Linked DNA regions of Homo sapiens. The protein of the gene in region 2 interacts with the protein of the main gene of each other region in a biochemical or structural test. Each region holds a gene or a part of one and is shown on either strand. Other genes may lie near its edges.

Region 1 (3,653 bases), on a different chromosome or scaffold from region 2:
CCAGCCTTTTCCCTATGGGCTGTCTGGGTGCAGGTTATGGGTGATACATGGATAATAGGTGCATCTTGGTTTAGAGGGTAACTCTTTATTTCTTACTGCACTTATGGAACACGAGAAAAAAAAGTATTAAATAATGGCTATGGTAATGGATATCTTTGTCTTATTCCTTACTTTAATGGAATTGCATTTATCATGAACCATGGTGCTGTTATTTCAGATAGCCTTTATCCTGTTAAAATTCTCTGCTGTTTCTAGATAACTACAATGATCTTATGGTTTTCTTCTTTGATCTATAAATATGATGAATATATTGAAAATAGATTTCCTAAGATTGAACCATCTTTGCATTCCTGATAGGAGTCATTATGTATTCACCTTTTAGCAGATAGTTAGAGTCGATTTGGATTGAATGTATTACTGTGGATTGTTCTACTGTAAGTGAGATGATTGACATTGTATCCTTAAGAGCTGTGCAATTCTCATTTTCTAGTCTGCTTCCATTGACTACCTGCATTACTGGTTTCTGAATTGATTCCTAATTAACTACTTCCTGTTTCTCCAAGCTGATGATTTAGTCTCCCTCATCCTTTCTATAGCCAGTTGCATCTTCACTGCTGATTCCCTGCCTCCTTTTCTCCTGTAAGTTCATCTTTTTTTTTTGACGGAGTCTCACTCTGTCGCCCAGGCTGGAGTGCAGTGGCATGATCTTGGCTCACTGCAAGCTCTGCCTCCTGGGTTCATGCCATTCTCCTGCCTGGGCCTCCCAAGTAGGTGGGACCACAGGCACCTGCCACCATGCCTGGCTAATTTTTTTGTATTGTTAGTAGAGACAGGGTTTCACCATGTTAGCCTTATAGCCTCTTTACCTGGGTGTTCTGGAGTCAGGGTGGAGCTGAGCTCTAATGCTGCTGACATTGTTCCAGCCTTCTCTCTATGGGCTGTCTGGGTGCTGGTTATGGGTGATACATGGATAATAGGTGTACCTTGGTTTAGAGGGTAATTCTTCCTTTCTTTAGCTTTTTCTTTTTGAATGGAGGTAAAATTAACGTAACATAAAATTAACCATTAACTGTTTTTAAACGTACAATTCAGTGACATTTATAGAATATTCACAGTGTTGGACAACCATCATCTCTATCTAGTTCTCAGAAATTTTCATCACCTCTAAAAGAAACCCTGTACTCATTAAGCAGTCACTCCCCATTTCCCTTTCCCTCCAGCCTCTGGCAACTATTAATAGTAGTCTACTTTCTGTCTCTATGGATTTACCTGTTTGGGATGTTTCATGTAAATGGAATCATACAATATGTGACCTTTTGTGTTGGGGTACACAAATGTTCATAGCAGCAGTATTCACAACAGCCAAAAAGTGGAAACAACCCAACTATGCATCAACTGCTGAATGGATAAACAAAATGTGGGATATCTATACAATGGAATATTATTCAGTCATGCAAAAAAATGAAGTGCTGATACATGCTATAATGTGGTGAACTTTGAAAACGTTATGCTAAATGAAAGAAGCCAGCCTTTCCTGTGGGCTTTGTGGAAAATAAGCTTAGAAAACTTACAGTTAATCTTGGTATGGGAAGAGCAGTGTAAAAGTCAGAAATCCATTTTTAACCAACACAGACCAGAGTTGACATCTTATCAGCCCATCTCATTTTGTGCACTGCTTCAGCTATGGATGTTAATAAAATTAAATTTCTCACTAAACAAGTGTGATGCCAAAGAACCTTCCACAAGTTCTGCAGCTGTCACTGCTTGGTGCTTAAACATGTTGGACAGTATTAATGCAAAAACTGCTTTTTCTTTTTCAGTAAGAGATGCTAAAAACCTTGTACCTATGGACCCCAATGGCCTGTCAGATCCCTACGTAAAACTGAAACTGATTCCCGATCCCAAAAGTGAGAGCAAACAGAAGACCAAAACCATCAAATGCTCCCTCAACCCTGAGTGGAATGAGACATTTAGATTGTAAGTGGAAATGACTGCAGTGAGCATGGGTGGTGGAGGTTGGGTTATGTGCCACCTGAAATCAGGGAGTTCCTCCTCCCTTAGCTCCTGTTTCCTTCCTTCCCTACCTCCCTCCTTTTCTGTCTTCTCCATCCCTCACTCCTATCTTTCCCTCCCTTCTTTTCCATCTGCAATTTTGTATTGTGAGCCAAGAAAAAAAATTAGAGCTATTTTTTTAATAGAGATGAGAATGCCTGTGGTGTGGGGGAGTGGGTAGGACAGGAAATGGTGTGATGTGTTGCTAAGTGAAGGCAAGTTGTGGGAGAAATGATGGGGCTCAGCAAATAGGGGAACATAACCTACAGGGTGTGGTGACAGCCTCTCTAGAGTTGGGTTTATGGATGATGCTTGGCCTGCAGCCTTCTGGGACATCTCCACCAGCCTCCCTTGAGGGTCTTCCCTGGCCAGGGCTCCAAGAATCTGGGAGTCTCTTTCTTGTACATCTAGGCATCAGGAGTTGGTTATAACAGCCAATTCACTGAGCATATATGATGTGTGACAAACACTGGGTTAAGCGATCCGACTTCATCGGCTCATTTTATTCCCAATGTAGCAATAGGGCTTATAGAGGTTAAAGAGTATGCCCAAAGTCCCATAGCAAATATGGGGTGGAGTGGGATTCAGCTTCTGGCAGTCTGACTTTAGCGGTCATACTTTTTTAGCCACCAGCTAGAAGCACAGTTCCTTGTCCTGTCTCCTCTTCCCTCTCTCAGGGCAAAGCTGGGCCCCTTCTCAGCCTCAGTCAAGGACATGTCTCAGAACAGACAATTTCCCCAGGATTTTTCTCCATGCATTTCCTCAGCCTCATTCTCAACCCACCTGTGTGCAGATATACACATGTACACACCCAATTATGCAATTGATATCTGTATTTCTTATAGGCAATAGGAATTCCTGAATATCCTGAACCCTATTAAGACATAAGATAACAAAAGTAGTTAGAACTGTTCTTGTCATAGCCAGTCTAAGACCTCTGCCTGTTTAAGCCACAGGCTGTCAAACAGAAAAAGCTCTCACTCCCTGGAGAGCTAGCCTGGGATGGAAACTGAATATGTTTCTTTCAGCAGCTTGTAATCTTTAAAACTTTCTACCTCCAGGTCTTGTCCTCTTGTACATTTATTCTGCTTGAGAAATTACTACAACCTCCACTGATGTCTTTTCTTTTTCTCTATGCAGTCAGCTGAAAGAATCGGACAAAGACAGAAGACTGTCAGTAGAGATTTGGGATTGGGATTTGACCAGCAGGAATGACTTCATGGGATCTTTGTCCTTTGGGATTTCTGAACTTCAGAAAGCCAGTGTTGATGGCTGGTAAGTAAGATTTTGCCTTGAAAGCTACCATACAGCTTGCTCCATCAAACGCGGGGTCAAGTATGTTTTCCTTTTTCTCCAAAAATTGAAATACTAAAACAGAGTCCCAAAGTGAAGTCTGGTTGATTGGATCTGCCTTGCAGATATGTTTTGTTTGGTCCTTGTACTAAAAACAAAAAAGAAAGAGGCCAGGCCTCGTGTCTGACACCTGTCATCCCAGCACTCTGGGAGGCCGAGGCAGGTAGATCACTTGAGCTCAGGAGTTTAAGACCAGTCTGGGCAACATGGTGAAACCCCATCTCTATCAAAAACATGAAAAATTAGCT
Region 2 (3,653 bases):
CTTTGTTGTTGCCTCCCAATACCCATTAGAATATTATTGAATATTCTATTAAGAATCACTGTTCTAAGGTGATTTTTAAAATAAGAAAATGAGGCTGGGCATGGTGGCTCATGCCTGTAATCCCAGCACTTTGAGAGGCCGAGGCGGGCGGATCGCTCGAGATCAGGAGTATGAGACCAACCTGGCCAAGATGGTGAAATGCTGTCTCTACAGAAAATACAAAAATTAGCTGGGCGTGGTGGCGGGTGCCTGTAATCCCAGCTACTCAGGAGGCTGAGGGAGGAGAACCACTTGAACCCGGGAGGCAGAGATTGCAGTGAACCAAGATCACACCACTGCACTCCAGCCTGTGTGACAGAGTGAGACTCCATCTCAAAAAAAAATGAAACAAAAAATGAGGAAATGTTTCTGTTCACTCACCTGGCTGTCATTATCGTTGTGCTTCATTCTTTTGTACAGTTCCGGATTTCCATCTAGTGTCATTTTCTTGTGCCTCAAGGATTTCCTTTTCCATTTCTTTAGTGCCATCCTGCTGGTGGTAAATGCTTTTATTTGTGCATCTGGAAATGTCTTTATTTCCCCTTAACTTTTCAGAGCTGTTTGTACTGGCTTAGAAATCTAGGTTGTTTTCTAGTTGTTTTCCGTTGGTACGTTCAAGACGTTGCTCCACTGTCTCCTACCAGGTTTCCAGGGAGAAGCCTGCTGTTGGGCACGTCCTGGTTTCCCCTGCTCTACCTCCCGCCTTTGTTCCTGGTTTCTAGCAATTTGATTTTGATGTGTCTCAGTTAAGTCTTCTTCATGTTTGTCTTGCTTGCAGTATCTGTAGTTTTATAATTTTCTTCATATTGGAAATGTTTTCAGCCATCAACTCCTCAAAAGTGTTATCTGTCTCTTCTTTCGAAGACTCCAACTCCCTATAGTATAGTAGGCTGTTTGAAGTTATCCCACCACTCACTAAGGTCCTGGCCTTATTTTTTTTTTTTCCCAGTCTTTTTTTTTTCCTCTCTGTTTCATTTTGGACAGTTTCTGGGACACAGTTGCTTGGAAACAGTTTGATTCTTTTGAGTTTGGAGTGGAGACAGTCTCCAAACTTTCCACATTTGCCGGGAACCACTATCCTCCTCCAGTGCACTGACTGTGGACTCTGGCCACCTTGTCCTCCTTCAGCCCCCAGCTCCATCTCCTCAATGCACGGAGACCACAGCCTCCACCTGGGTCTTCCTCCCTGTGCTGCAGCCTGGACACTTCCCCAGGAGGAAGCTGGGCGGGAAGCAGGCTCTCTCCAGGATTACTGACCTGTGCTCTTATTGTCCAGTTGGGGTTTGTTTGTTTGTTTTTCCTGCCTTTTAAAAAGGTCATTTGAAGGCTGGACATAGTGGCTCACACCTGTAATCCCAGCACTTTGGGAGGCTGAGGCTGGCAGATTGCTTAAGCTCAGGAGTTCGAGACCAGCCTGGCCAACATGGTGAAATCCCATCTCTACTAAAAATACAAAATTAGCTGGGCATGGTGGCATACTCCTGTAGTCCTAGCTACTCAGGAGGCTGAGGTGGGAGAATCGCTTGAGCCCTAGAAGTGGAGACTGCAGTGAGCCGAGATCACACTACTGCACTGCAGCCTAGGTGATAGAGGGAGACCCTGTCTCAAAAAAAAATAAAAATAAAAATAATTTTTTAAAAGTCATTTGAGGCTTTTTCTGTATTTGTACATGCTTTTCATATAGGTTTCGTCTATTTTTCCCAGTGTTTTAGTTTTCTATTTTGGCTGGATGTGGAGATTGTGGTTAATAACTGCTTATTGAATGTATGTGTAGATATGGATTCATAATCTTCTCTTATTTCCCATGCCTCTTTTTCCCCTTCTGTCACTGACATTTAAAAATAAACTCATCAGAAGAGAAGCATGTAGGAAGGCATGTGTGAAGCATAATTTGTGCTCATCCTTCTCTGCTTATCAAAATTGGCTGTTGGAAATTAGCTGGAGTCAGTTTACCTGCCCTTAATCTGTCTGGAGTCATGAAGAAAGAGACAAAACTGAGTTAGGAAAATCTTGAAATAAGCACTGGGCTGGGCCTGGAGCAGGAGGATGAGTGGACTCAGCACAGAAGTGTGGTTGCCTTGCAGGTTGTGTGTCGCAGCCCTGTCGGTGAATAACTTCTGTGACAACCGCGAAGCCCTGTATGGTGTGTTTGACGGAGACCGGAATGTGGAGGTGCCCTACCTTCTCCAGTGCACTATGAGTGACATTTTGGCTGAAGAGCTGCAAAAAACAAAAAACGAAGAAGAATACATGGTCAATACATTCATTGTCATGCAAAGGTAAAACTCAGAGTTCCTGCTTACCTGCTGTGTGTTTTCTTGCTCTTTGAGTGTTTATCCTCTGTTTAGAAAAGCAGGTGCCCAATGGTCTCCAAGCCATGTTTTTTGACTATGAGTACCAAGATGCATTCAGGCAAGTTTGGTGTTGCCCAGGCATCAGGAATGGTGCTCCGGTTTGAGACATACTGATGTTCAGACAACTTTGTAGAAGGCTCAGACAATGACAAGGAATTAGTTTCTCTGAGAACTGGACCTCACTGGCCTGTGTTGATTGCAGATTTTCATCAGATTGTTTGCAATGCCATTTCTCCTCCCAAATCATGTGAGCTGTAGGGGCTTTTTAGACTTTCTGTTGTGGGGACCTCTCTTTGAAATGGACCGTTTCTATCCTAGTTTCTTGGCCCTTATGAAATACTATCACTGGTTTGAGATAGTGCAAACCTTTGTGAAATCAAGATGGTCAGATTTTAGCCCAAGAGTTAAATCATTCTTTATATTTTGTTTTCTCCTTTATTAAATGTTCAAGACAGTGTTACTGGCAGAATCCTAGGCCATAGCCTGGAGTTGCCACCAGCAGCAGAGCTTTAGGTTGCTGTAGAAATTGTGGAATATTGTTTGTAACTCTTAGAGGAATGAGGATTCCTTCATTCAGAGAATTGTTTATTCTTACCACCTTCATGGCTTTCTAGGTAATAATGGAATTGCCTGTCTATAAGTATTGTGCTGCAGACTCACTCATGTGGGACCCAGGAGTGATGAATGTACTGGTATTTGAGGTCATGAGAGCAGTCATGGTGTTTTATCCTTATCTGCTCTTTCTCTCCCTTGATATTCTGCCAGAGCAAGTAGCTTTGTTAGAGGGGTAGAAGTGGTGTCTGGGGAGGAGTGTTCAGAGCAGCCTTTACAGTGATACCTGCATCACAAATGGTTCCTCTCAGAGAGCTTGGTGGAGGCAAGCCTGGGGTGGTTCTTGCTGCTACACTCACCCCTGACTTTCAGATTCTCAGTGAGCATATACAATTAGCAACTGAACAATAATGGCTAATATCCAGCAAGCCCTTAATATGTACCAGTCATTGTTCTAAATTACCTTATGTGTCATAAATTGTTACCAGTTAGCTGGGTAATGTTACTGAAAGTGATGTACAGTGAGGTGAAGCACAGTGCCTACGGGCTAATAGGTAGTGCAGCCAGGACCTGACCTCAGGTTGTGAGACTCCCTTCAAAGGATGTTGTAACTAGCAGGCACATCAGCTTTCCTGTTTTTACCACCCTTTTGTTCTAGAAAAACAGCAAGCATGTATCATATGCACACACATACACATGTGCATACAG
Region 3 (3,653 bases), on a different chromosome or scaffold from region 2:
GGATTACAGGTGTGAGCCATTGTGCCTGGCTTCATTTATATTTTTTTAATATTCATCATGCATACTTACCTTACATAAAACTTCAACAGGCGTGGACATCTTCTTTTCACTAATCTTTTCATATTTTTGTTTCTTTGTTGCAGCCTGTGGAAAAGAATAAAATAAAAAAGATATACTCAGTGCTACTGAGAAGAACCATGGTAGTTTAACGCACTAGACATATAAACATATACCTGTGAGATTCAAGAGAAATTTTAACCCAGAATTTAAAAAATCAAAGTATAATACATCTAAAAAAAATTTTTCCCAAACTGTTAACTTCTGATGTAAGTTTCTTCTCTAAGAATTTAATTTTAGCTATAGGGAAAGGGTGAGTCTAATAGGAATATATGGATATTAGATTTAAGTAAAAATGGCTGGGGCCAAAATTGAAAAGCATTTTCTTTCTTTCTATATATTTTTTTAAGGAGATGGGGTCTCACTATGTTGCCCAGGCTGGAGTGCAGTAGCCATTCACAGGCTCAGCAGTAATTCCCTGTGGCCTCCAACTCCTGGCCTCAAGCAATCCTCCTGATTCAGCCTATCAAGTAGCTGGGACTACAGGTGTGCATCATCATACCCAGCTGAAAAGCATTTTCTTTCCTTTTTCCTTTTCTTTGTTTTTTTGTTTGTTTGTTTGTTTTTTTGAGACAAGGTCTCCCTCGGTTGCCCAGGCTGGAGTGCAGTGGCTCGATTATAGCTCGCTGTAGCCTCGAACTCCTGGGCTCAAAGCAATCCTCCCGGCTCAGCCTCCTGAGTAATTGGGGCTACAGGCATGTGACACTACACCCTGCTATTTTTTTTTTTTAAAGTAGAGGTGAGGTCTTGCCATACTGACCAGGCTGGTCTTGAACTCCTGGGCTCAAGTGATCCGCCTGGCTGGGCCTCCCAAAGTGTTGAAGATTATAGGCATGAGCCACCATGCTCAGCCTGAAAAGCATTTTCTTAACCCATGTTCAACACAAGGGCAAAGGCATCAGATTAATACAAAAAAATTTGTTCATCAATTAGTGACATTAATAAATGGAGTTAACTGTATAAGTCACAATATTTTTCTAAACTAAAAATACTCATATTAGATAAAGCTACCCACCCAAGGACTGAGCACTACAACTAGCTCACAGCCACTCAATAAATACAGGTATTCCTTCAAAGAACTGGTAAGGTACCAAAATAGCCATTAAAATTTAGGACACACCAACAGTGGTGACTCACACCTGTAATCCCAGTTCTTTGGGATGCTGAAGCAGGAGAATCACTTGAGCCCAAGAGTTTGAGACCAGTCTGGGCAACACAGTGAGGCACTGTCTCTACAAAAAATAATTTAAAAATTAGCTGGGCATGGTGGCATGTTCCTGTAGTCCCAGCTACAGGTAGGAGGCTGAGATAGGAGGACTGCTTGAGCCCAGGAGGTTCAGGCTGCAGTGAGCCAGGCATTCCGGCTTGGGCAACAGAGCAAGACCATTCCCCATGCCCCCACCCCCACCCAAAATTAGGATACGGTGATTTATCATTAACATACACTCACAAAAGTAACAGTAAACTCCTAGCTAATAGAAACAAAATGTTAGGACATGTATTGCTGGATAAACAGGTCTTGCTGTACATAAAAACATACATTTTCAACATAATGGCAACACATCAAAATGAGAAAGTCTCCACCTTTCTTAGTCCATGCCCACTTCCATCTAGATAGAGCTAGTGGCTACCAGTGGGTACCAGCTTACTGTCTCTTAGAGGACACTGTTCTTCAGCTGAACTAAGTTCTTACTAAAATGATCTGGTTTCATTTTCCCAGATAAAAGGTAAAAAGTAAATTAAGGTTAATTCTTTATATCTCAGAAAAATCTCAGACTTAGAAGGGACCTTAAATCTTATCTTCTCCAATATATATTTTTATTCTAAAAAAGAGAGAGAAAAATCTGATAATGTGAGTCTGGTTTACCTTTAGCCCTTGCCATGGCAGGCTGGTTCTATTAAAATACATCAAAACATATCCTAATGATTCCATGTCATCTCGGCGACTAGAAAAGAGAACGTAATTTTATAAACTGGAACTATTATTATGAAAAAACATATGAAAGAAAGTCAAGTACCCAGAAGAAATGTTCCCAAATGAGGAGGGAACACTATTTGGTGTCTTACGCAAGAAGCTACTTATTTAAGGTGATTTTAAAAAGTTCATGTGTTACCTACCTCTAAACAAAACTTTTTCCATGGAATCCAAAATCTGACAAACAACTGTCTTACAATTTAATTTTAAAAGAACAGAAACGATTTGGCTAAACAACCCTCTAAATGAGCTTAATGAACCAAGCAGGATGACATTTCTATGTTTTGCAGAAACTCATTAAAAAAAAACTTCAGAAGTACTGAAAAGGAGTTACAACTTAAAACTAATTGAACATCTATATGAATGTATTCATGCATACATATCTATATACACATACATACAAATATATATTTAGATATATATATATTTAAGGATAGGTAATGCCTTGGCGTACAGAAAAAGTGACATTACAGTTTAACCTAGATCATTCAGATATTCATGGATATTTCTTAAGCCTGAAATTCTTGGTATGAGGTTCTTTAACCTGGAGGCATATCATTGTTTTTTCTACTTATTACTTCTATGCTAGTTTTAAGGAGCAAAAAGTGACTGTAAAAGATGAAAGGAACTCGAAACTCTAGAACTCATGTGAAGAAATAGGAAGAGAGCAGAGACTGTTACTTTTTTTACTTTAAACTAGATCCTATTAATTTATATATTTGAGTGAAGTATAACAGGAGATGGTCCATCAACCCACTTTTGGTTTATTAGGACACTGATAACATTTTCCTTTTAAAAATAAATAATGCATTCTTCCCAAACTCAGCGTGAATTACTAAAGTATAAAAAGCCCCAAATAGCTCTAAAAATATATGTACTATCTTCAGCTGCAAAAAGAAACGTCAACATTGCACTTATGCTTCTAACTTTCTATCACGCAGTATTTTCCCCCCAAGAGACAACCTTCAACAACAACAAAAAATCCAGAAGACCTCATTTAACGGTCTTCTCTACACTGGTTAAAGCAGCAGGTAAAATGATTAATAAGCATCCTTCAAATCCTCAGCCAAGAAACATCCTTAGACATTGTAAGAAACTAAAATATTTCAAAAACCCATTGATGGCTTCTGCTATGGCTATGATAAGCACATTCCATTTTCGAACTTACCTCTGCTCAATACCAAGATGTGCATTGATGCTAGCATATCGGGCAGTGCCAGTGAGGTTTTTATCTTCTCTGTATGGTATGTGTTGCCTTGTCCTGTTGTCTCTGTACTTTTTGGCCAAACCAAAATCAATAAGGAATAACTTTAAAAGAGAAATACAGAAACATTAGGTTTCCAACCTTGTTCAATTAAACTGCGTCTTATTCATTAAATGGTATCTATTCTATGCATTCAAATATATCAAAATAAAGTATCCTAAGTATTAATAGAACAGATAATGAACAGACTTAACACCCCCCCATAAGCTTTTACTAGTCTTCATCAATAAATCAAGTTAAAAAAAAAAAGTCTAGTAGTTTATCCTTGTCGTTTGCAGATTTCACAGGCCCATTTCA

What was found.
Region 1: of the proteins of PHLPP1 (region 2) and PRKCB, one has a biochemical effect on the other in vitro, tested with the Homo sapiens proteins (one study listed by IntAct).
Region 3: of the proteins of PHLPP1 (region 2) and CSNK1A1, one has a biochemical effect on the other in vitro, tested with the Homo sapiens proteins (one study listed by BioGRID).

What each region holds. Positions count from the first base shown.
Region 1 is NC_000016.10:24,090,971-24,094,623, forward strand, and holds part of PRKCB (protein kinase C beta type), read left to right. Parts: intron 1-1,820; coding exon 1,821-1,977; intron 1,978-3,192; coding exon 3,193-3,327; intron 3,328-3,653. UniProt on the Homo sapiens protein: Calcium-activated, phospholipid- and diacylglycerol (DAG)-dependent serine/threonine-protein kinase involved in various cellular processes such as regulation of the B-cell receptor (BCR) signalosome, oxidative stress-induced apoptosis, androgen receptor-dependent transcription regulation, insulin signaling and endothelial cells proliferation.
Region 2 is NC_000018.10:62,970,391-62,974,043, forward strand, and holds part of PHLPP1 (PH domain leucine-rich repeat-containing protein phosphatase 1), read left to right. Parts: intron 1-2,123; coding exon 2,124-2,318; intron 2,319-3,653. UniProt on the Homo sapiens protein: Protein phosphatase involved in regulation of Akt and PKC signaling.
Region 3 is NC_000005.10:149,509,810-149,513,462, forward strand, and holds part of CSNK1A1 (casein kinase I isoform alpha), read right to left. Parts: intron 3,401-3,653; coding exon 3,261-3,400; intron 2,064-3,260; coding exon 1,985-2,063; intron 145-1,984; coding exon 70-144; intron 1-69.